2 separate regions of the Homo sapiens genome follow, and region 2 is linked to region 1. The links come from fine-mapping of genetic effects on gene expression. A gene starts in region 1. The other region holds a variant in brackets. All regions are shown on one strand. Distances are between the middles of the regions. Region 1 holds the start of WDPCP (WD repeat containing planar cell polarity effector). Region 2 overlaps WDPCP (WD repeat containing planar cell polarity effector).

Evidence for each region.
Region 2: its variant is fine-mapped to the expression of WDPCP in thyroid (GTEx, PIP 0.99).

Annotation. Positions count from the first base shown.
Region 1 is chr2:63,580,360-63,593,322 of GRCh38, reverse strand. It overlaps WDPCP (WD repeat containing planar cell polarity effector), which reads left to right and starts at 4,846. Exons shown (of 18, transcript NM_015910.7): 1 at 4,846-5,126. The coding sequence starts at 5,052. It overlaps MDH1 (malate dehydrogenase 1), which reads right to left and starts at 4,360. Exons shown (of 9, transcript NM_005917.4): 1 at 4,277-4,360. The coding sequence starts at 4,279. RefSeq lists enhancers at 4,330-4,649, 5,161-5,681.
Region 2 is chr2:63,458,779-63,471,741 of GRCh38, reverse strand. The region is part of intron 6 of WDPCP (WD repeat containing planar cell polarity effector); the gene reads left to right. Among named protein-coding and RNA genes, the nearest start is that of WDPCP, 120 kb to the left of the region's middle. The variant T/C (reference allele first, on the strand shown) is at 6,956.

The sequences.
Region 1 (12,963 bases):
TGGGAGTTTGAGACCAGCCTGACCAATATGGAGAAACCCCGTCTCTACTAAAAATACAGAATTAGCTGGGTGTGGTGGCAGGCATCTCCCAGCTATTTGGAAGGCTGAGGCAGGTGAATCACTTGAACCCGGGAGGCAGAGGTTGAGTGAGTGGAGATCGTGCCATTGTATTCCAGCCTGGGCAACAAGAGCGAAACTCCTTCTCAAAAAAAAAACAAAAAACAACAAACAAAAAAAACAAAAAGTGTCAACTGGTGTAGAGAAATGAATTTGATCATAGCCAACTACATACTACACAATTTTTTTTTTCTAATTTATTACTATTTATAGAAAAATCTTTAATGGCCTACACGTTTTTCATTCTGTCATTTTCCCTTCTTTCCTTGAAGTAGAGTAGGTGAGGAAAAGGGAATACAGGAAGAAATTATTACTCCCTTTCCCTTTAGAATACGAGATCCTTAAGGACAGGAACTTTGTCTATTTTATTTACTGCTGTATCTCAATTGCCTAGAACAACACCTGTCCTGTAGTTGGAACTCTGGTATTTGCTTGAAGGAATAGCTGGGTCCTGTAAAACTATCAAAAAGATGGAAATGTATAAGAACTGTTTGAAAACATATGTAACGTGCTTTAAAAAATTTTTTAAGATATTTTATTTATTTAAGCTATTTCAGGCTGAGTGCAGTGGCTCACACCTACAATCCCAGCGCATTGCGCGGGGGGACAAGGCGGGTGGATCACTTGAGCCCAGGAGTTCGAGACCAGCCTGGGCTACATAGTGAAACCCTGTCTCTTAAAAAAACAATTTAGCTGGGTGTGGTGGCAGATGCTGTAGTTCCAGCCACTCAGGAGGCTGAGGTAGGAGAATCACTTGAGCCTTGGAAGTTAAGGCTACAGTGAGCCATTACTGTGTGAGTGCACTTCAGCCTTGGTGACAGAGTGAGATCCTGTCTCAAACAAAAACTTTTTCATATATACTATGAAAACAAAAGGTATTTTATTCATATATATTATGTATTGAGAAAACTGGAAACTTAGTGACCACAATAGTTCCAACTATAGCTAACAAAATTGTCATTAGTACTAATGATATTACCTTATAAATCCACTGATGAACTGTTTTCTCATTTAATTCATTCATTAAACAAAACATCATTAAGTTCCTATCATGTACTTGGTACTATTTTAGGCCAGGGAATCCATTGGTGAATCACGTGAAGGAAACAAAAAGGATACACCAATTTTCTAAAACAGGGGGCTAGAGAAGCAGTAGAGAGTAGTAATTAAAGAGATGGACTCTGGAGCCAGACTTTCTGTGTTCAAGTCCTGGCTCCACAACTCATTAACTGCATGCTCTAGGACAAGTTACTTAACCTTTCTGTATTATTTCCCCATAGTAAAATGGAGATAATAATAGCAATTACCTAACAAACAGAGTAGTTTTAAGGATTAAAAGAGTTAACACACAAAGCACTAAGAACAGTACGTAGTGAGTATTTATAAATATCATCACAGAATTTTCCTCTAAAGACTTTAATAGCCTGTGGTTTTCTATTTACATTTCTGTTGCTCTGTATTAGGCCATGAAGCGCTCTTGAGAACAGTCTGTCTTTGATATGGATTTGCATTTCCACAAAAAGTATTTGTTGAATGAAGGAAGGTTAGGGTATAAAGTATGAACAGATACTACTTCAATGAACAGCAAACTAGGATAAGAAAAGGGGGGCTGAAGAGAGTGAAGATCACTATCTATTAAGTTTAACTTCCCATAAGGTCACCTATATGGTTAGAATAATGCAGTCAATTTTAGTAGCTACTTAAAAACATGTTCACAGTATCACAGTCCTTAGTGAAGGGGTTGTGGCCACCTAATGAACAGTTAATTCCACCTCAGCAGTTTTCTTCTGTGTCTTTGGGGAAATTACTTTCCCAGGTAGGTAATTCCATCTTATTAATGGTAGTATGAGGCTTAGTGTTTGAATGTCTGAAGATGAAACAGAGAAAGAAAAGTCCATGTATGGTTCTTTCTGCTCTTCTGCAACATTGCAGTTGAAAAGCAGGAGGGTGGGAGAGTCCTGCTGACTTTCACAATGTTATAGTGTGAACATAGGTTACTATTCTTTGCTCAGATATCTGGGCAGTGTGCCAAGGTCCAAAAAAGGAACGTCTTTGCTCTTAGCAGGGCACCAATGACTTTCCTGCAGATGCAGGCTCTGTGCTAACTTCTCAGCTATAAAGATTGAATTTAAGTGTCTGTTATTCCACAGACAGAGCCACATATTTCTTTTTCACTTTCAAATTTATATATATTTCTAAATTACATGTATTTCTATAACACAAAAAACTAAGCAGTACCATTTAGATTCCTTCATACAGTTTATTTTGCTGTCACTCCCTACAGACAACAAGCAAAGAATCCTCCGCTTTGAATGAGCTTACAGAAGAAGGCTCTTTTCTAACTCTGTCCATTCACACACCCTCCTGAGGGGGCAGGGAAATTGAGTCATGTGTGAGTTTGCTGTCAGTTCCAGCAAACTGCCAGACAAATTCTTCCTCATGTTCTGTCTCTGTGTTATCTGGCACCCCAGTGACCTTCCAACGGTGGGGCCTTGCTAGGGAAACTAGCTAAGAATCTGGGGCCCAAAATCTCTGTGACCTTGGGAAAATTATCTGACCTCACCAGACTACATTATAAGAGTAGATAATATAATCTCCAAATTCCCTTTTAATTCTACAATTCCAGTATTTTGAATGGCAAGGAATAAAGCTATCAAGTAATCTACATGCTGATAACATATTTGAGTTTGTATATGCAGTATGAACTGGTAACTTCATCCGGAATCTCAGCTAGTAAAAATAAGTTTTCAGGGAGTTGAGTACACTGTCTCTCCCCCGCTGCGAGACCTCACTGCGGTGGTCCCTATAAAAATAAAAATTCAGAAAGACTTGGTAAGTGTAAGACACAATATAGAAAAATGGCAAGAGTGTGAGACTCTTGGAGCAAATCACATTCTCTTTGGGTCTCGATAAACTCCATTTTAAGATCTGAAGTGGGGAGATTCGTCAAGATGACCTTTAAAAGATCCCATTCAGTTCTAAAAGCAAAAAGTCCAAGGTTATCAGATAATAAGTACCTCTGCTTTCTAGCTAAGGTTATTAGGACAGAAACTACCGAAACCATAATTTAAATGACTAATTATGTGACAAAACATTTAGGAAACCTAGGTTTAACACCTACTGGAAATTAGTAGCTGTCTCCACTGGCCCCGTTAGACAGGCAGAGAGAGTAATGCCCTTGCCTTGAAAACGTGTCTTTTCAGGTTCTGGGAAATTTCCAATTCATTCAAACATTTCTCCACATTCTCCAGCCGTTTTAGTATTTTGCAGATAAAGTAGGAAAAACAGTCGCAACTATAAATACAAGCCATTGTATTGATAGTATGAAGCGATTTCTCTGAGTTTGATGACAAATGTCACCTTCAAGCAGTACGCAGATTATTCCTACGCCAGAGTTCCTTCACCAACTCTCCCCCTCCCCCTCTCTTTCAGCAGAGACAAGCGATGGAGATGCAGGTTACCCAGGTCTTCCATGACAAAATGGTTACTCTGTTACATTTAAGAGAGGTGCTTCTGGAATTCACAATATACAGTTCAATAAAGAATATTTGCAGTAGTTATTTAGTTAGTGATGCTGTCACTTCAATATATCCTGGCATTACAAAAAAGGTCAATGAACGGGTTCCAAATAACATTTTGAGAAATTAGATATGGCGGAAACACGTCTGCTGCAAACGCAGATCGTAATCTGGAGCACCTGGTAAATACTACCTTTCCAGCTTTTTGCTTTCAAGGTCCCTGTGACAAAAGCCGTTATAAACACTGTGGGCAAATGAGGAGAAAAAGGGGTTAGGACCCAACCTTTCCCTCCCATCGCAAACCTTATCGTCCTTATCAAACACCGTAACGTCCTTTGGAAAATAGCTGCAGCGTCGCATTTTGTCCTCCCGTCATGCAGCAGGATTAAGATCGCTCCTCTCCCAGGACAACTACTTCTCCAGAGTCCTCCTAAGAGCGCCCCATACCCCGCAAGGTGGAAATCAATCCCTTCCCATTACTGGGTCACTGCGGCAATCCCCAGAAGATGAGTCCGAGCTTGCCAAAGGGCGCGAAGGACAGTGCCTTGCACAGCTGCCTCCCAAAAGTCCCTAAAGTGCAAGAAACCCCACTCAAGGGCGCGAGGGCCAGAGGTGGGCAGGAACCCGGGGCCCACACTCACCATGATTGAAAACTGCGGGGACAATTTCAACAACTGCAAAATGAGCCTCAGAGAGTCAGGTCACCTCTACCGCGGAACTGACTCGGAGAGGGCGAGCGGTGTTAGCGAGAAAAGGCTCCGCTCCCGACGCGGCGCTCTCTGGGAACTGTAGTTTACGCTGCCCTGGTTGTGGCGCAATCTCCAAAGCATTTCCTTCAAGTGTTGAACTACACTTCCCGATACCAGAGGTTTTTTTCAAGCTCTTCTCACTGCGCTCTGCGCCGATTGCAAAGTAGTCCCTGAGGATGAGCCCCTGTGATTGGAGGACGACAACAAACGGATGGTTTGGGCTCAGGAGGAAAGGACCTGCCTGATGGAGCCCGGCAATTGGCGGGAGAGATAGCGTGTGTAACTCTAGGGAGGGGAGAATCACCCCTTAGCGACATCACCCCCACGCGCGTGACTGAGACTGCATCCTCCCATGAGGGTAAACGTGGGAGGTAAAGAGACCTTCCGCTGCGTAAAGCTGGATCGACCCGGAAACAAAATCTTTTAAAAAACGATTGACACTCTGGAGGGGCGGGGGAATTGATAAGTTGGGACGACCGGACAGCTTCTCAGGTTGCTAAGCGACGAGGCGGGAGCGCACGCACACCCTGGCTGCTTTGTAGCACCTGAGGAAACTGTGGCGGCGGCGGCGGCGTCCTGGAGACCCAAGAGACCAAGCGAGCGTGTCGCTCCCTCTCGGGTCCGAGGACCTAGCCTAGGAACCTTCTGCCCGGGGTAGTGTCTGGTGATGAGGCGAGAGTTTTGCTGGGACGCCTACTCCAAAGCGGCCGGGAGTCGCGCTTCTTCCCCACTCCCGAGACAGGTGAGCCCTGGCCCGAGGGCAAGGGGTTTTCTTTTAACCTTAGGATCCGGAATGCGGTTGGTGCGCCGTCCCGCTTTGCTTTTATCCGCTGTGCGGATGCCTGCAAGCTCGCCGGTCCCTTTTCTGAGCGGAGTATGAGGGCTGTGGGAATGCAGCTATTTTGGAGGGGGTGGTGCCCTGGAGTAGGTGCACCCCCGACCCCAAATGGAGCTCTTCCAGAGTTATATCAAAAATATTTATTGAGCATTTACTTTGTAGGAGGTGAGCCTCTCCCTTCCAGGAGGTCACAGTATACGGTTCTAATTTGCTCTAAGCCCTCCGTGAATGTTGAGTTTTGTCCATTCCCTTTTGGAAGAAACAGGATGCGCCTTAAACCATCTTGAGTCTTAAAGTTATGCCAAACAGGCATTTCTAAGGAAAGACTGGCGACTGAAGGGGAGACACTGGTTGTTTAGTCAGTCAGTCTCAGCTGGTAAAACAACTTAAGAGGTTCTCTTTAAAATTAATGCTGCCAAGAGAATTGCTGTGCTTTTTGAAAGCTTGTTTCTTGTGGATGTTAAAAGGAAGATATGATGCTCGGGAGTAGCATACACAGCATATACGTAATGAAAATGAATAAAACATCTCTATTAGATAACATTGTTAGAACTTCCGTTTTTTCTCTGTCACTGATAAATGAATGCCAAGTAATATCTTTCAATTTTTCTCTATTTCAGTTTGGAGGATTTGCTATTTTTGGAAAGAAATGTAATGCTTTACTTTTAGCATTTATTAATATCATACCTGAATGACTCTCCTTGTATCTCTTTATTCATTTGGCTCTCAGACAACATACTTTCCTGGTTTTCCTCTTTTGTTACTGGTTCTCAGTTCTGCGGAGTTTCTAAATTTTTTTTAGTTGTGATCTCTTAACATTGGGGTGCCTGTATTCTCTGTCTATACTAAATCCCTCAGTGAGCTAATTCATAAGTTGCATCACTTCAAATGCTACTTTTAATGTCAAAAACTCTCAAATTTATGTGTCTAGTCCTGAATTAGTAGGTGTGCATTATTCTCAAACCTAGGTTCTCTGAGTTTTACTTTTTACTCTGAGCAGTTACGAAAAATTTCTTCCATTATCCTCCTAAATGAATTCTTCTACTAGCTGCTAACAGAAAGATTTTTCCATGTTGTTGTCCTTAAAAATATCATGATTTTACCTAATGTAAATGACGAGTTAATGGGTGCAGTACACCAACATGGCATGTATACGTACATATGTAACAAACTTGCACGTTGTGCACATGTACCCTAGAACTTAAAGTATAACAAAACAATCTCATGATTTTTGTCCTCGATTTACAGTGAATTTTACAAGGGAGACTTTTTATAACCAGAATTCTCACTGCAGTCCTATAGCAGGACAGGACATTCCCATACTCCAAGAAGGCCACAAACATGTAAGCCCCCGTATTCCCATCCAGTCCAGATATACAGAATTGAAGTCACCTGTGTGGTAGTTCACGGGCCTTGTTCTGTTTATTGCTAGTTGCCCTTGTAAATCAGGTTAAGGAGCATATTAGCACTGATTGTAAGTTACTTTTCTCAGGTAATATAATACACTGCAAGAGAAGATGTTTGGTAAGGTGGGTATATCAGCACATTTCCAATTATACTAATAAGATTGTCTGTGTTCTCTTCCTTTTGAACCGTCTTTGGTAATAGCTAATGTCAAGTAGCACAATATGTCATTGCACTTTCACTGTGAGTTTGAATCTCCAGGTGGTTTGTGAATGTGTTGCAGACATTCATTTTTTGTTAAGGCAACAAACAGAGCATTAAACTGTTATGCTATATTTGGAGTTATGCTTAACATTTTTTTTGCCCAGCCTCGCGTTATTTAGTAAGGTAATATTTAATTCAAATTGTAGAAAATGTTTGAAATACCATTCTAACAACATCCAGCAAAGATATTAAAGGATCATTAAGTTTCAAATCTCTGAAATAGAATGTTGGCTCTTGATACCCAAGGCACTTTGGAACTCACAAGATCTTATGCTTTTTTATAGTATACAATTATTTAACCACAGCTAGGCGTGGTGGCTCACACTTGTAATCTCAGCACTTTGAGAGGCTAAGGCCGGAGGACTGCTTGAGTCGAAGAGTTTGAGACCAGCCTGGGCAATATACTGAGACCTTGTCTCTACAAAAAATTTTTAAAAAATTAGCTGAGTGTGGTGTTGTGCACCTGTAGTCCCAGCTCCTCAAGAGGCTGAGGTGGGAGGGTTGCTTGAGCCCAGTAAGCAGAAGTTGCACTGGCATCACTGCACCCCAGCCTGGGCGACAAAGGGAGATCCTGTCTCAAAAAAAAAAAAAAAAAAAGAAAATTATTTAACCTCATATTAATTTTATCTCTAGCATATATAAAATTGTTATAGATCTAGTTAAAACTCATTCATCTTAATGTTTTCTTTAATGAAGTTCTATTACACTTTTAAGCTATTTTATAACAATTTTGTTATAATCTGGTTCCTTTTTGTTGAAAGTAACAATGTAATATTTAGAGAGTACTATAATGTAAAGATGCCTTTACATTGCTGTCTGTCTAAGTAGCTACATTTTTAGAAATATGTACTTTACCATAGGATCATGTATTTAGTAAACAGCCATGTTAGATAATGGAGTGTGATTGAAAATAGGATTATTTATAAAGCAAGGTTAAGACTTGTGAAATAAATCAGAGACCAAATTATTACAAATATTTTTTAAAGGAAAGATTGCAGAGCTAAATAGTTGACCTTAGCTGAAAAAAAAAACTTTGGCTTTTTACCCTTTTTAAAATTTAAGTGTAATGCTAGGTATCTTGGAAATTATTTGTTGGCTTAAGTGACATGCAGGACATTTTTGAAAGTATTCTCAAGTAATTTCTTAAAATGAATATGTAGTATTTTAAAAATAATTATTACATTCACTTTAGTGAATCTTAAACGTAGTAATTCCAAATTTAGTTATGGCAAAAATAAAAGTGCTTGTAATTTAATTTAAAACTGTAGTCTCAATGAGAACCACTTTATTACTATGTCTTACAATTTTATACATACACAATTTGTACACATTTTAAACTATAACATTTGACTGGAATTTTCAGGAATGGTGAAATACAGGATATTTTAATAGGATAAAAGTTTTAATCATGATCATTACGTAGTCAAGTTGCTTTGAGTGGTCAAGTGGTAGAATTGAGTGGAATAATTTGCTAGGACCTCCTCTTTTAACTTTAGTTAAACAAGATAAAACATTATTCATCAGGATTCTGTTTGATAATTACATGTTTCCAGAAGTATGAGCTACCTAACCTTGAGTTTTTTTCAAGTGAAAGGAGCAGAATTTATTGGTCTTAACTTTACTACCTAGCTGTGTGACCTTGAACAAGTTTCCTGGTCTCTATAAATCTTCATTTATTAATACAATGAGGCTAATAACACAGAGTGATCATTATATCTGGAAACGTAATGTAGCAATTCCATTCCTTTACATACCCATTTAAATCAAGAGATGTACAAGATGTTCATAAGCACTGTTTCTAAGAGCACAGCTCTAGAAATTACCCATATGGCCATCAATAGGAAAATGTAAAAATATATTGAAAATGAATAGAACATAGCTACACACCAACATGGATTCATTGAAATCCATTGGATTGATTGAAAATGAATTCATTTTCATTGGATTCATTGAAAATGAATATAGCTACACACCAACATGGATGAGCATCAAAAATACAATGTTAATTGAAAAAAGCAAACCATATAATAATATATACATTATGATTTAATTTTTATAAAAATTAAAAATTTGCAACAAATACTGTTGTTCACGATTTCAAACCCATCTGGTAAAACCATAAATAAGAGCAGAGGAATGATTAATCAGAATTCAGGATAGTGGTTGCTTGGGGAGGAGAGTAGGAGACGGGGTACTGGGGTCTTCAAAATATTAGTGATCTACTTCTTTTTAAGCTGTGTTAGTATGTGGGTATTTATTCATTCATTTATTTATTTTGAGGCCATCTCACTCTGTTTCCCAGGCTGGAGTGCAGTGGTATGATCATATCACTGTAGCCGCGATTTCCTGGGCTCAAGTGATCCTCCTGCCTTGGCCACCCAAAGCGCTGGTATTATAGGCATGAACCACTGCACATAGCCTGGTTTTATTTTTTGTTTTAGTTTAAGACATACATATATCTCTGGCCACTCTTTTTTTTTCTTATTCTTCTTTGAGATGTGGTCTCGCTAGGTTGCTGAGGCTGGTCTAGAACGCCTGGGCTTGAATGATCCTCCTGCCTCAGGCTCCCAGGTAGCTGGGACTACAGGCACTGACCACTCATATGTATCCTATTTTATATGAAACATGGTGACTTAGAACTTTATCTTTTATTATTGAACAACAAATTTGAGAGAGAATACAGTCACTCATGACACTAGTACCCTAAAATAACTATTTACATTTTTCAAAATTTCTTTCTTTTTTTTTTTTTTGAAACGGAGTCTTGCTCTGTCGCCAGGCTGGAGTGCAGTGGCGCAATCTTGGCTCACTGCAAGCTCCACTTCCTGGGTTCAAGCAATTCTTCTGCCTCAGCCTCCTGAGTAGCTGGGACTACAGGCACGTGCCACCACACCCAGCTAATTTTTGTATTTTTATTGGAGATGGGTTTTCACCATGTTGGTCAGATGATCTCGATCTCTTGACTTCCTGATCCGCCCGCCTGGCCTCCCAAAGTGCTTGGATTACAGGCATGAGCCACCGTGCTCTGCCAGGTTTTCAAAATTTCAAGGTTAAATTTAAATGACGTCTTGCTATTTGTCTTCAATTTGTCCCATTTGTTCTCTGTTCTCTCTTCTTTTCTTCCTTCTTTTTGATGAATTGAAATTTTTTACAATTCCATTTTATCTCCTTTATTGGCTTATTGACAGTAACTTTATTTTAGTGACTGTTGTAGGGTTTATAGCATACATCCTTTATCATAGTGTATTTTCAAGTGATATTATACCATTTCATGTATAAAAACCTGCCAATAATTTACTTCCATTTCTCCTTTCCTGACCACTTTACTTTTACATGTTATGAGCCCCATACAACATCATCGTTATTTTTGCTTAGTCAATTATTTTTAAAAGAGATTTAGTGAGAAAATATCTTAAATATTCATCAATATGGTTACTATTTTCAGTCTTTTAATTTCTTTTTATAGATCTGTATTTCTAATATAGTATGATTTTTCTTCTGTCTAATGTAGTTCCTTTTTAAAAATGTTTCTTGTGGTTAGGATTGGCTACTGAAAAATTCTCTCAGCTTTTGTATGTGTGGAAAAATGTTTGTTTGAAAGATATTTTCACCGGATATAGAGTTCTAGATTGATAGTTTTTTCTTTCAGTACTTTGAAGATCTTGATCCACTGTTTTTTTTCATTTGCCTTGTTTCTGATTAAAAATCTACTATCATCTTTATCTTTCTGTATTTGTACTTAAGTGTCTGTTTTTCTCTGGCTGCTTTTAACATTTTTCTCTTTATTACTGGTTTTGAGTAATTTCATTATGATGTGCCTTGCAAGTGTAGTCTTTTTTATGTTTCTTGTGCTTGGGGTTCATGGAGCTTCTTGGATCCATAGGTTTATAGTTTTCAATGAATTTGGGGAAATTTTGACCTTGTTTCTTGAAATACTTTTTTCTGTGTGCTCTTCGATTCTTGCGCTGTTTTGGGGATGACAGTTATATGTATTTTGAGCTGATTGAAGTTGTCTCATGGCTCATTGATGCTCTGTTTATTTTTAAAATTATCTTTTCTTTCTAGGTTTCATTTTGTAAAGTTTCTGTTGCTAGGTTTTCAAGGACACCAGTTTTTTATTTTGCAATGTCTAATATGCTATTCATTCTATCCAGTATATTTTTTATTTCACATATTGTTTTTATGTGTAGAAGTTGGATTTGGGTCTTTTAAAAAATATCTTTCATGTCTACTACATTTGTTTAACATGTGGAATACAGTTATAATCATTGTTTTAATATTCTAGTCTCCAGGTTATAACATGTCTGCCAGTCCTGGGTTGGTTTTAGTTAATTTTTATTTCCATTATGGGCCATATTTTTATGCTTCTTTGGAAGTCTGGTAATTTTTTTTATTAAATGTCAGATTGCGAATATTACATTTCTTTTTTTTTTTTTTTAAGATAGGGTTTTGCTCTGTTGCCCAGGCTAGAGCTAGTGGCCAGTGCAGCCTCAACCTCCTAGGCTCAAGCAATCCTCCATCCTCAGCTCTCAAATAGCTGGGACTACAGGTGTGCACCACCATACCTGGCTAATTTCTTGTAGTTTTTTGCAGATACAGGGTTTTGCCATGTTTCCAGGGCTGGTCTCAAACTCTAGGACTCAAACGATCCACCCGTCTCAGCCTCCCAAAGTGCTGGGATTATAGGCCTGAGCCACCATGCCCAGCCTGAATGATTTTTATCTTTCTATAAATAACTTTGAGCTTTATTCTGTGATGCAATTAAATTATTTGAAATTAGTTTAATTCTTTCAAAACTTGCTTTTAAGATTTATTAAATATTAGTCAGGATCTGAGTATTGCTCAGCTACTAGGGGTAATAATTTCCTACTCCTGAGCCAAGACTTTTCTGTGTACTCTACCCAATGACTGTGAATCACAAAGTTTTTCTGTCGGGCTGGTGAGAACAGGCACTATTCCCAGCCCGATATGAGTGCCAAGCACTGTTATCTGTAATCATTTCTAGTTGCTCTTTCTCCAGCCTCATGGTTTGATCATATGCATGTGCTGTGAGTACTCAGCTGAATTCTCAAGCGGAACCCTCTGAAATTCTCTGGAGTTCTCTCTGTATGATTCTCCCTCTCCAGGGAACTAACTACCTTGTCTTCTCCAGTTTTTCAGTTCTGTCTGCTCAACTCAAGTTTGCCGGGCTACTCCTGGTTTCCCCTTCCTTGCACTGTACATTCTCTCACACAAAGACATATGGAAATATGTCTTATGGAACTAAGCTCTAAGACAGCTTTGTATGCCTTCTACGTTGGTTTTTAGTTCCTACTTTTTGGTGAAGAGAAGTGCTCTCTCTTACAAGCTCAGCTATTTTTTTTAGTCTTTTATTTTGAAATAATTTCAAATTTACTGAAGAATTGTAAGAATAGTAAAAAGAACTTCTAAGGCCCCCTCAGTTAGATTTACCTTTTAAACATGTTGTCACATTTGCTTTATCACATGTTCCCACCACACTATCCCCTTGATTTTTTCTGAATCATTCGAGAGTAACTTGCAGACAATGTGTCCTTTTATATTCCTATATTCTTCAGTGAATATATTCCAAGAACAAGGCATTCTTTTGCTTAACCATTATACAGTTAAGAAACTTAACATTGATGTGTACAAGTATCTAATATACTCTCCTGTTGACACGCTGCCAGTTGTCTCAGTAATGTCTCATAATGTTTTTCCCCTCATACAGGATTGTGCATTTAATTTAGATGTCATATCTCTTTAATCTCCTGTAATCTGGAACAGTTTATTGGCCCTCTTTGTCTTTCATGACATTGACATTTCTGAAGAGTATAGGCTAGTTTTTTGGAGACCATCCCTCAATTTGGGTTTGTTTGATGTTTTTTTGTGGTTAAATTCAGGCTTGCATTTTTGGGAGGAAGATTACATAGGTGATGTTGTGGCCTTATCAGAGCATTAAATCAGTATGTCTTATTATTTATGATGTTGATTTTAATCATTTGGTTAAGGTATTCACCAGATTTCTTTACTATAAAATTACTATTTCTTCCCCCTATAATTAATAATCAGTGGG
Region 2 (12,963 bases), 120 kb after region 1:
CCTTAGTCTCAGAGAGCAGCTAGTCCAAATAGGGGCAGGGAATGGGAGGTTCCAGGAAGGATGTTGAAGAGATGGAAAGCAACTGATAGATCATTTAATGTAAGATAATTAATAAGAGATAATAAGAGATATGGTAAATCTGCATATATGGTAATGGGAAGTCAATAAGTAATGACTAAATCAAGAAACAGCATCTATTGAAGACACTACTCCTTGCTTGTCCATCATCCATTTTTCCTTATGAACTGACTTTGATGTTCAGAGTAGCAATATAACCAATTAAAAATTCTTGGCTTTCCTATTCCCCTTCCAGCTGCAGTTGGCCATATGAAGCACGTCTTGCTTTGCTAAGCAGAGGTTACTGGTGGGACTTCCAAGAATTGGGTTATAACTTCTCCGCTTCTGCTCTTCGCCTTCTTTTAGAAGTCTGAATCTGAGATATGATCCAGAAAGGGTAGGGGCAGCTTGTGACCATTCATTCACTCAATGCATATTTATTTAGTACCAACAATATGCCAGATAGTATTCTATGTGCTGGGGATAGCAGTGAACAAAAGGGACAAAAGTGACCAATATCCCTGTTCTCATGTAGCTTATGTTCTAAAAGAGGACAGAGTCAAGAAAAGATGAATAAGGAAAATATGTAAGAGAGTGCAACTACTAGAGAAAAATAAAAGCAAGCAAGAAAGCATGATGGGGGATGGTAGGGCAGGCTGGGCCTCATATTTGGTGGCCAGGAAAGGCCTTAATGAAGTATCCCCAGATTGAGATTAAGATATGAAGGAAGTGAGGGAGTAAACCATGGAAGATACCTGCGGAAGAGCGTTCCAGGTAGAGGGAACAACAGGTACAAAGGCCCTGAGATGGGAGTATACCTGGCATGTTTGAAGAATAGCAGGGAGTTGATATGAGTGGGGTGAAATGAGCAAGAAGAGTAGTAGGAATTGAGGTCAGAAAGGAAATGTGACACTAGTTATATGTCTTCTAGGTCATCCAGAGGGCTTGGCTTTTACTCTAAATGAGAAGAGAAGCTCTTGAAGAGTTTTGAGTGGAGAAATATGTTTCAATTTACTTTTTAATTGGATCACTGTAGCTATTGATGGGAATAGATTGAAGACAGTGAAAAAGATGAGTTAGAAGGCTGTTGCCGTAGTCCAGGGTAAGGTGTGATGGTGGCTTTGACTGGATGATAGCAGTGGAGTGGTGAGAAATGGCCAGATTCTGGGTATATTTTGAGTGTTGAGGCATCAGAATTTGCCGATGGATCAAATGTGGGGTATAGAGGAAATTTCTGAGGAATTGGAAGAATGGAGTTGTCATTTACTGATGTGGGGAAGATTGAGAAGAGATATTTTTGAGGGACTTATCAGAAGTTCAATTTTGGACATGGTATGTTTGAAATGCCCATTAGATAGCCAATTAGAGAAGTCAAATAGATTGTTGATTATTGGAATTTGTAGTTGAGGGAAAGATTTGGGCCAGATGTATAAATTTGAGTGGCAGCAACACAGATGGCACTAAAAGCCAAAAGACTGGTGAAGATCACCAAAGGAGTGGGTGTAGACAGAGAAACAGAGGAGACTGAAGAGTGGAGCCCTGGAGTCCACTAACATTTTAAGATTAGAGAGACGGAGAAAAGGGAAGATGAAGAAAGGAGACAGAATGGAGTAGCTAGAGAAGTAGAGCACAATGAAGGGAGTGTGGTGTCCTGGAAACCAAGTTTCAAGAATAAAGTGGAGTGTTACTAGTATGCCAAGATACCTGTAACAAGATGGTGGCCATTGGCCACTGCATGGAGGAGCATGCAGGTCATTCATGATCTAGATAAAAGCAGTTTCAATGGAAGGTGATGGTAGAAGCCTGATTGGAAAGTATTTTTTAAAAAACTTTTATTTTAGGTTCAAGAGTACATGTGCAGGTTTGTTATATAGGTAAATATGTGTCATGGGGGTTTGTTATACAGATTATTTTGTCATCCTGGTACTAAGCTGAGTACCCAGTAGTGATTTCTTTTGCTCCTCTCCCACCTCCCACACTCCATCCTCAGGTAGGCCCCAGTGTCTATTGTTCCCTTCTTTTTGTTCATGTGTTCTCATCATTTAGCTCCCACTTACAAGTGAGAACATGTGGTATTTGATTTTATGTTCCTGAGTTAGTTTGCTAAGGATAATGGCCTCCAGCGCTATCCATGTTCCTGGAAAGAACATGGTCTTAGTCCTTTTTATGGCTGCATAGTATTCCATGGTATACATGTACCACATTTTCTTTATCCAGTCTACCACTGATGGGCATCTAGGTTGATTCCATGTCTTTGCTATTGTGAATAGTGCTGCAATGAATATATGCATGCATGTGTCTTTATGATAGAACTATTTATATTCCTTTGGGTATATCCCAGTAATGGGATTGCTAGGTCAAATGGTATTTCTGACTTTAGGACTTTGAGGAATCTCCACACTGCTTTCCCCCAAGTGGTTGAACTAATTTACACCCCCACCAACAGTGTATAAGCATTCCTTTTCTCTGCAACCTCACCAGCATCTGTTATGTTTTGACTTTTTAGTAATAGCCATTCTGACTGGTGTGGGATGATATCTCATTGTGGTTTTGATTTACATTTCTCTAATGCTCAGCGATATTGAGCTTTTTCTCATAGAGTTGTCGGCTGCATGTATGTCTTTTTTTTTTGAAAAGTGTCAGTTCATGTCCTTTGCCCACTTTTTAATGGGCTTTTTTTTTTCTTGTATTTAAGAGAAAATGGGAGGAGAGAAATTAGGGGCTTATAAAAAGGGTTAATGTTGTAAAGGAAAATGGAGAAATAGAGTAGGAGCTTGATGGAGAAATGGAGTCAAAAGAGGTTTTAATTTTTTCTTTCTTTTTTAGATGAGAGAAATAACAGATATTGGTATGCTAATGAGAATAATCCAATGGAAAGAGGGAAATCAATGCAGGGAAAGGGGAGCATTAATTGCTGGAGCTGTTGGCAAGAAAGAAGGAGAGAGACAGACAGAAAGAAAAACATACCTGCTAAGGGGGGAGGGAATAGAACGTAGGTGCCTGGTATCTGATGACATCATGGAGATGCTTTATAGTCCTGGACTGCTCAACTTCATATTTCTTTCTAAGTGAGAATAACAAGCCCTATTTGGTTAACTAGTGAGTTTTCAGGTTTGTGTTACATACACAAGAATGCATTTCTAACTAACATATCATGTTACTTAGAAGTGTGAGGTAGCAACAGAAGAAGCTGCTAAGAGAATTGAAAATGATTATCTTTGAGAGTGGGATGAGAGGCTGTGGGGTGGAGGTAAGACAGTAAACAGCTGTTTTAATTCCAAGTATTCTCTGACATTTTAACAATTTATACATGCATTCCTTTAATTGAAATCCTTTTCAATCATGCTCAGTGTCAGTTTGGGTCTTCTAAGAAGCAGATGGCAAGATAGTACTAGCCATGTGAGAGATTTGTGGGGGAGATGTGAAAGATGATGAAGAAGGGAGCAGGAGTAGGTGGGGAGAGCTTTTAAACTATGATGCTAGTCTGAACATGTGAAAGGAGAGAGAAGGAAGGAGGGTTGGATAGAAAGAGGTGCAGGCTGAAGCATGGTGCTGAGAAAGTTTCAGCCAGGCCAAATGTTATTCATTAGAGGAATCCCCTGTTGGACAGGATTGGGCTGGCCCTAGTACCCAGTGATGCTCAGTCGTTGGCTGGTAGCCACCCAGGGAAAGTGTGGCTTCTCTCCATCAACTTTACCGCCAGCCTCAGTTCCTCTTGAAGGAGTTCTGAGTGGCATACAGCCATAGCCATCACACTCACAAAGATTTACATTAAAGGATGTGTGTATGTTTGTGTATACACACAACATTGTACCTGAGGAATCTTAAATGTTCAGCTAGTGAGTTTAATATCATGCCCTTGATAATTAGTCTTCCTTGGGCAATTTTTTTTTTTTTTTTTTTTTTTTGGAGACTGAGTCTTGCTCTGTCGCCCAGGCTGGAGTGCAGTGGCACAATCTTCGCTCACTGCAACCTCTGCCTCCTAAGTTCTAGCAATTCTCCTGCCTTAGCCTACCGAGTAGCTGGGACTACAGGCGTGCACCACCACACCTGACTAATTTTTTATTTTTAGTAGAGATGGGGTTTCACCATATTGGCCAGGGTGGTCTTGAACTCCTGACCTCATGATCCACCTGCCTTGGCCTCCCAAAGTGCTGGGATTACAGGCCTGAGCCACCACGCCTGGCATTTTCTTTTGTTTGTTTGTTTTTTTGAGATGGGGTCTCCCTCTGTTGCCCAGGATGGAGTGCAATCTCGGCTCACTCCAACCTCCACCTCCTGGGTTCCAGTGATTCTCCTGCCTCAGCCTCCTGAGCAGCTGGGATTATAAGTGTGTGCCACCATGCCCGGCTTATTTGTGTATTTTTAGTAGAGATGGGGTTTCACCATGCTGGCCAGGCTGCTCTCAAACTCCTGACCTCAGGTGATCTGTCCACCTTGGCCTCCCAAAGTGCTGGGATTACAGGTGTGAGCCACCGCTGGACCTTGGACAAAATTTTTATTCCTTTCCAAGAAAAACAGGAAATTTACATTGTATCTTGACTACTTCAATCCAAAATTCAATGACCTATGATAATTGACTGATATATTATTTATGCTTAAGAATACAGTAGAATATTTACCCGATTTTGCAACATGGTTGTGACACAAAGAAACACTTGGTCTTCTTTTTAATAATATATCTTTGTATCATCAATCAACATTTTCTTCCTGTTCTCTTCATAAATGGTTATTTCTTTGCTTTTATTAATTGTTTTCATTTTAAAACATTTCTTTAAAGAAACTCTTAATTTCCTGGCTCCACTGTTGGCATTCATGACTAATAACGTTTTGGAAGCTTCCACGTATTTTGCTACAAAGGAAGCCAGTTCAGGACTATTAATTTTTCTCATATTTATTCAGTTATAGTTAATCATATGTGTCAAGCTAAATGAGTTCAAATCTGAATAATCTAACTCCTCTCTTGTTGTTTTTCACGTGTCTTTTACAAACACATACCAAATATTTATCTAGTTTTTAAAGGGAGGGTAAAGTTGTACTTCCATAGTTAGCTAATGAGAAGACTTTAATAAATTATATTTAAATACTAGTACTGATTTTTTAATCAGGTTTTATCAGTTTTGTAGAAACTTAAAAAGTGACTTATTTTAAATTTATAACTTTGTATTAAATGTACAAGTTAGAATGTGATATAAATGTATGTATAAACTAAGCATCTAAGGTTAAGTGTGAAAACACAGCAAATTTATATTCGTGATATTTGAGAATATTACGTTTTATATATATATATGTCAATGTAACTAATAGAGAAAACACATAAGGTACTTTTGCCAAATTGTAATTTATATGTCCCTTAGTTTTTTTAATAAAGTGTTTTTTTCAAAAATAAAAATATTAACTTAGCAGATAAACTACTTAACAAGTGACTGTGAAATGAAAAGCAGTTATAACTACTCATAAAATAGTATTGTATATAAAATGTTCACAGTGGCTCTCCACAGTGAAGAAGTACCTGTCCTTTGGTAGTCCTGTTGGTCTTAGTGGAATCCTAGGTTGAATTGTGAGGCCCCACTAAGCATATAAATTGGTCTATTTTTGTGTTCATCCTTCTCCCATAATAGAACAGTCCCTTGTTTTATCTGAGCCAAGTCTTCCACCTAGACCTAAAGTTCCCAAACTAGGCACAGAGGCACCCTGGGTACTACAGTGAATTCACAGGCATGCTGCAGGATATTTTTTAAAGTCTCAAGGAAAACACAGAGACTACTGTCGAAGATACAAACTATTAGCCCCAGATAGTTCAGAGTTTCAATGTTAGTTTATGCTACATTCTTTTTCAGGTTGTCATAGCTATTTGAAGCTGGGTTTTCAGGGCTTGCTGTGATAAAAAGCAGCTACTACACAATAATCAGCATAGAACAGGAATTAGGGTGAGGATGTCCAATTTGATTTCAAAATTTGACAAGTTTTGTGGTGCCTGTCTTCTGTTAGTACACACAACTTGTTAGTAAGTAGTTATTTAGGAATGAAATAAAAATCTTTTTCTTTCAATCTCTGTGTATTATATTTCCAAATGGCTATTAACTTATTAGGACATAAATACTTATTAAGTTGCTTTAATCTATTTAATAAATGGAACTATTGGTATTTCTTTTGGCCTAGGGGCACTGTAAAAAATTAGAGAGACACAAATGGTACTGTGAACTGAGAAAGAATAGGAACCTGTGGCCCTCACTTTGGATCCCAAAGTGGGATCCAAACCTTCTCAAACCTAATGTGACTGTCACTTCTCTGATGTGCAGCATAGTAGTGGAAAGCACAGACTGCTCCATTTTTTTTGGTGTCAAATTTTGGCTTTCCCAGCTGTGTGACTTTGGGGAAGTTACTTCATCTATTTGTGCCAGTTTTTATTTAGCTATCAAACAAAAATAAAAATACCTAAGTCATAGGTTTATTATGGGAACTCAGTAAGTTAACACATATGAAATACTTAGCACAGTGTCTGGCACAGGTACCTGCTTTTTAAATAAATAAATAAATAAATAAATAATAAATAAATTTAACCTGTCAGTTTGATCTTCCCAGTCAGCTTTTTTTTCAGTAAAAAACTTTAAATTAATTTTTTTATTGTGATAAAAACATATGGTACTGTGTTTTTAAAACACAATTGCCCATCTTTAAGTGTACAGTTCAGTGTGTTAAGTATATTCACATTATTGTGAAACAGATGTCCAGAACTTTTTCATTTTGCAAAACAGAAACTCTATACCCATTAAACAACAATGCCCCCTTTTCCCCCTCCCCTCAACCCCTGGTAACCAGCATTCTACTTTCTGTTTCTATGAATTTGACAACTTTAGATACCCCATCTAAGTGGAATCCTACAATATATATCTTT[T/C]TGTTACTGACTGGTTTCACTTACATAATGTCCTCAAGGTTCATCCGTGTCGTAGCATGTGACAAGATTTCCTTCTTTTTTTCAGGCTGAATAATGTTCCAGTGTATGGGTATCTACATTTTTTTTTCTCCATTCATCCATAAGTGGACATCTGGATTGCTTCCACCTCTTAGAGTTTGTGAATAGTGCATCTATGAAGATGAGTGTGCAAATATCTCTTCAAGACCCCGCTTTCAATTCTTTTGGATGTATACCCAGAATTGAGATCACTAGATCATACGCTAGTTCTATTTTTAATTTTTTGAGGAAACACCATACTGATTTTCATAGTGGTTGCACCATTTTACAATCTCACCAGGAGTGCATGAGGATTCTAATTTCTCCACATCTTTGCTAACACTAGATCTTTTCTGATTTGTTGTTGTTTGTTTTTGTGGTAGTAATCATTCTACTATCAAGCTATGAAGTAGTATTTCATTGTGATTTTGATTTGCAGTTATCTAATGATTAGTAATGTTGAGTATCTTTTCATATGCTTGTTGGGTATTTATATATCATCTTTGTAGAAATGTCTATTTAAGTCCTTTGCCCATTTTTAAGTTGGATTATCTGATTTTTTCGTTGTTGAATTGTAGGAGTTTTAAAATGTATTTTGAGGATTAACTCTTTCATATGTTTTGCAAATATTTTCTCCCATTCTGTAGGTTACCTTTTCATTTTGTTGATTGTGTCTTTTGATACCTAAAGGTTTTTAAGTTTGATGTCCCATTTGTTTGTTTTTGCTTTTGTAGTATGTGCTTTTGGTGTCATATGCAAGAAATCATGAAGTCCACCCCAATGTCATAAAGCTTTTCCTCTCTTTTCTTCTGGAAGTTTTATAGATTGGGTCCGTGATACTTTGCTTTTCCAGGGTTCTCTCTCTACATTTCTGTCTTTAATCCATTTTGAGTTAATTTTTGTATATTATGTAAGGTAAGGTTCAACTTCGTTCTTTTGCATATGAATATCCAGTTTTCTCAGCATCGTTTGTTGAAAAGATTGTTCTTTCTCCCCATCGAATAGTCTTGGCACCCTTGTGGAAGATCATTTGACCATTTATGTGAGGATTTATTCCTGGGATCTCTTTTCTGTTCCACTGGTTTATGTGTCTGTTTTTATGCCAGAACCACACTGTTTTTGATTAGTTTTGTAATATATTTTGAAATCAGGAAATGCGAATCCTCCAACTTTGTTCTTCTTTTTCAAAATGGTTTTGACTACTGGGGGGCCCTTGATATTCCCAGTCAGCTTTTAAACAGGCTCAACTCTTCTCCATTTAAACAAATGAACCCAACTCTTGGTCAGTACCACATTCTCCTCCAGGTACCATCATATCATATCCTTCTCCTTCCAAATCAGATTTCTCAACAAAATTGTCTGTATTTAGAGTCTCCATTTCCTTCTTGCTTACTCAGCATTCACCAACTTTAATCATGCTTTTTTCCTGATTATTACACAGCCAAATCTTCCACTAAGGTTGTAGAAAACCTCCATATCACTGAATCTAGTAGATGTAAAAAAAATCTTATCATCTTAAATACACAGTAGCAGTTAACATTACTGAGTACCCCTTGTTCTTGAAATTTTTTTTTTTTTTTGGTTCTTTCAGTGTTCTCTCTATTTCTTTTTCAGGTCCGTGTTCCTTTCCCCCGTCTTTGAATGTTGGAATTCCTCAAGGCCCAATTCTGAACCATCTGCTCTCCATTCTGAACTTCTAGATTATCAAATTTATAACCACAGCTTCCATGGTTCCTCCTAGAGCTCAAACCTCTCCCCTGTGCTCCAAGGTTATAAATCCAGCTGACTACTTAATGTCTCCCCTTAAGCAGCTCAAAGATAGCTCAGACAGTATCTTTAAAATGAAACGCAGAGACCCCTCTTTGGTCCTCTTCCACCATTCCCAATCTCAAGGAATGGCCCTGACTTCCATCCATTTATAGAAACCAGAAACCTGGAAGTCAGCTATTTATCTTCGAAATTATCCTCTTCTTTATCCAACTCCTTCTTTCCCCCCATATCCAACTAATCTCTGGTTCTTGTTGATTTTAGTTTCTAAATTTCTCTCACCTCTGCCAGAGGTTCTCCATCCCTTTCTGCATATTTTTAGCCAGAACCTCCTCACTTCTCTCTCTAGACTACTTCAAAACTTCCTAACCACTCTGTCTATTCCGTGTGTGCCCCTACCAGTCTGCTCTCCACATAGTAGTCAGAATGATTTTTTATTTAATTAATTATTTATTTATTTTTTATTATACATTAAGTTCTAGGGTACATGTGCACAACGTGCAGGTTTGTTGCATATGTATTACATGTGCCATGTTGGTGTGCTGCGCCCATTAGCTCATCATTTACATTAGGTATATCTCCTAATGCTATCCCTCCCCTCTCCTCGACCCCATGACAGGCCCCGGTGTGTGATGTTCCCCACCCTGTGTCCAAGCATTCTCATTGTTCAGTTCCCACCTATGAGTGAGAATATGCAGTGTTTGGTTTTCTGTCCTTGTGATAGCTTGCTGAGAATGACGGTTTCCAGCTTCATCCATGTCCCTACAAAGGACATGAACTCATCCTTTTTTATGGCTGCATAGTACTCCATGATGTATATGTGCCACATTTTCTTAATCCAGCCTATCATTGATGGACATTTGGGTTGGTTCCAAGTCTTTGCTATTGTGAATAGTGCCGCAGTAAACATATGTGTGCATGTGTCTTTATAGCAGCATGATTTATAATCCTTTGGATATACACCCAGTAATGGGATGGCTGGATCAAATGGTATTTCTAGTTCTAGATCCTTGAGGAATTGCCACACTGTCTTCCACAATGGTTGAACTTTTTAAAAAACAAATTTGTTACTCCTCTGCTTAAAACCCTTCTACAACTTTGGAGGACAGGTGGGAAACTGGAAACTGATTAAAAGGGATAGAGAAACGTGGGTAAGGGGATACAGGGATGAGAAGAAGACTTTTAATGGTACACCTTGGTATAATCTGCTGTTGTGTTCTTTTGGAGCTACATGAATGTATTATATATTCCAACATGAATCAATAATTTGAATTTTAAAAATTATAACATCAACAAAACTGGTCCCAATCTACCTGCATTTTAAATTTCATCCCTTACTGCACTCTTTTTTAATCTCATTGGCCAAGCTACACCAGGTGTATTAGGCCGTTCTTGCATTGCTATAAAGAAATACTTGAGACTGGATAGTTTATAAAGAAAAGGGGTTTAATTGGCTCGTGGTTATGCAGGCTGTACAAGAAGCATGTTGCTGGCATCTGCTTGGCTTCTGGTGAAGCCTCAGGGAGCTTTCAATCATGGTGGAAGGCAAAGGGGGAAGCCAGCATCTCACATGGCAGGAGCTAGAGCAAGAGAGAGTAGGGATGGGAGGTGCTACACATTTAAACAACTAAATTTAGTGAACACTGTCTCACTATTGCCAGGATAACACCAAACCATGAGGAATCTGCCTCTGTGACCCAAATACCTCCCCGCAGGCCCCACCTCCAACACTGGGGATTACATTTCAACATGAGATTTGGGTGGGGACAAATATCCAAACTATATCACCAGGCTTCTGTCAATCCCTTATATTCTACATACTATCTCTTGCTACCTGGCCTTTGCATGCACCATTCCTAGCTCTGCCTAAAATGCCCTTTGCTTCCCCTTACATGGAAGTAACACATTCTCAACCTTAGATCCCAGACTATCAGTTGTCTCTTCCTCAAGGAAGCCTTCCCAGAGAAGCTTTATCCTTTATTTTGTGGTTTTAGAACATCATGTATTTCCTTTTTTTCTGCTTATAAGAGACTTAGTGGCTGGGCGCAGTGGCTCACACCTGTAATCCCAGCACTTTGGGAGGCTGAGGTGGGTGAATCACGAGGTCAGGAGATGAAGACCATCCTGGCTAACATGGTGAAACCCCGCCTCTACTAAAAATACAAAAAATTAGCTGGGTGTGGTGGCAGGCACCTGTAGTCCCAGCAACTCAGGAGGCTGAGGCAGGAGAATGGTGTGAACCTGGGAGGCGGAGCTTGCAGTGAGCCGAGATCGAGCAAGACTCCGTTTCAAAAAAAAAAGAGAGACTTACTTTATTTTCATGTATTTTTTGTTTTGTTTTTTTCTCTTTTATTGATACATAATTTACATATTTGTGGGGTACATGTGAGTGTTTATATGCAAAGAATGTGTAATGATCAAGTGTGAGTAATTGGGATGTCTGTTAACTTGAGTGGGTAGTATTTTTACATGTTGGTATTACTTCAAGTTCTCTCTTCTAATTATTTTGAAATATACATAATATTGTTGCTAAGTATAGTCATCCTATTCTGCTATCAAACATTATAACTTATTTCTTCTATCTAACTATATGTTTGGACTCATAACCGAACTCTCTCCCCCACCCCCGATTCCCAGTCTTTGGTATCTGTGCCTTCTATTCTCTATGTCCATGAGGTCAAGCTTTTAGCTCCCATATATGAGTAAGAACATGTAGTACCTGTCTTTCTGTGCCTGGCTTATTTCATTTAACATACTGACCTCCAGTTCCATCCATGTTGCTACAAAATGCATGATTTCATTATTTTTTATGGCTGAATAATATTCCATTGGTTATATACACCACATTTTCTTTATTCATCGATCTGTTGATGGGCATTTAGATTGATTCCATATCTTTGCTGTTATGAATAGTGCTGTGATAAACATGTGAGTGCAGATATCCTTTTGATATAAATATATTTCTTTTTCTTTGGATAGATACCAAGTAGTAGGATTTCTGGATTGTATGGTAGATCTCCTTTTGTTTTGTTTTTCTTCTTTTTTTGAGACAGAATCTCACTCTGTTGCTCAGGCTGGAGTACAGTGGCGCAATCTCACCTCACTGCAACCTCCCCCTCCCAAGTTCAAGCCATTCTCTTGCCTCAGCCTCCTGAGTAGCTGGGACTACAGGCACATGCCACCACTTCTGGCTAATTTTTTGTATTTTTATTAGGCACAGGGTTTCACCATGTTGGCCAAGCTGTTCTCAAACTCCTGAGCTCCGGTGATCTGCCTGCCTCAGCCTCCCAAAGTGCTGGGATTACAGGCGTGAGCCACCATGCCAGGCCTCCTTTTGGTTTTTGATAAATCTCCATACTATTTTCCATAGTGGTTGTACTAATTTACATTCCAACCAACAGTATATAAGAGTTCCCTTTTCTTTCTTGCCAGCATGTTATTTTTTGTCTTTTAAATAATAGCCATTCTAACTGGGGTGAGATGAAATCACATTGTGGTGTTAGTCATATACCTCTTGTCTATATGTATGTCTTTTGAGAAATGTCTATTCATGTACTTTGCTCATTTTTTTAAATGAGTTTTTTTTTTAACTGTTGAGATGTCTGAATTCCTTGTATGTGCTGGGTATTAGTAGTCCCCTATTGGATGAGTAATTTGCAAACATTTTCTCCTATACAAGAGGTTGTTTCTTCACTCTGTTGATTGTTTCTTTTGCTGTGCAGAAGCATGTAAATTTAATATACTCTCATTTGTCTATTTTTGTTTTTGTTGCCTGTGCTTTTGAGGTCTTAGCCATAAAATCTTTGCCTAAACCAATGTCCTGAAGAGTTTTCCCTAGAACTACTACTATTTCTAGTAGTTTTATACTTTTGGGTTTAATCCATCTTGAGTTGACTTCTGTATATTGTGAGAGATAGGGGTCCAGTTTCATTCTTCTACATATAGAAGAATAAGTGGTTATCATTTATTGAAGAGGGTTTTCTTTCCCCAGTGTATGTTCTTGAGGGCTATGGAGAAGATCAGTTGGCTGTAAATATGTGGATTTATCTCTGTGTCTCTAGTCTGTTCCATTGATCTATGTGTCTGTTGTTACACGAATATCATGCTGTTTTGGTTTCTATATCCTTGTAATATGTTTTGAAGTCAGGTAGTGTGATGCCTCCAGATTTGTTCTTTTTGGTCAG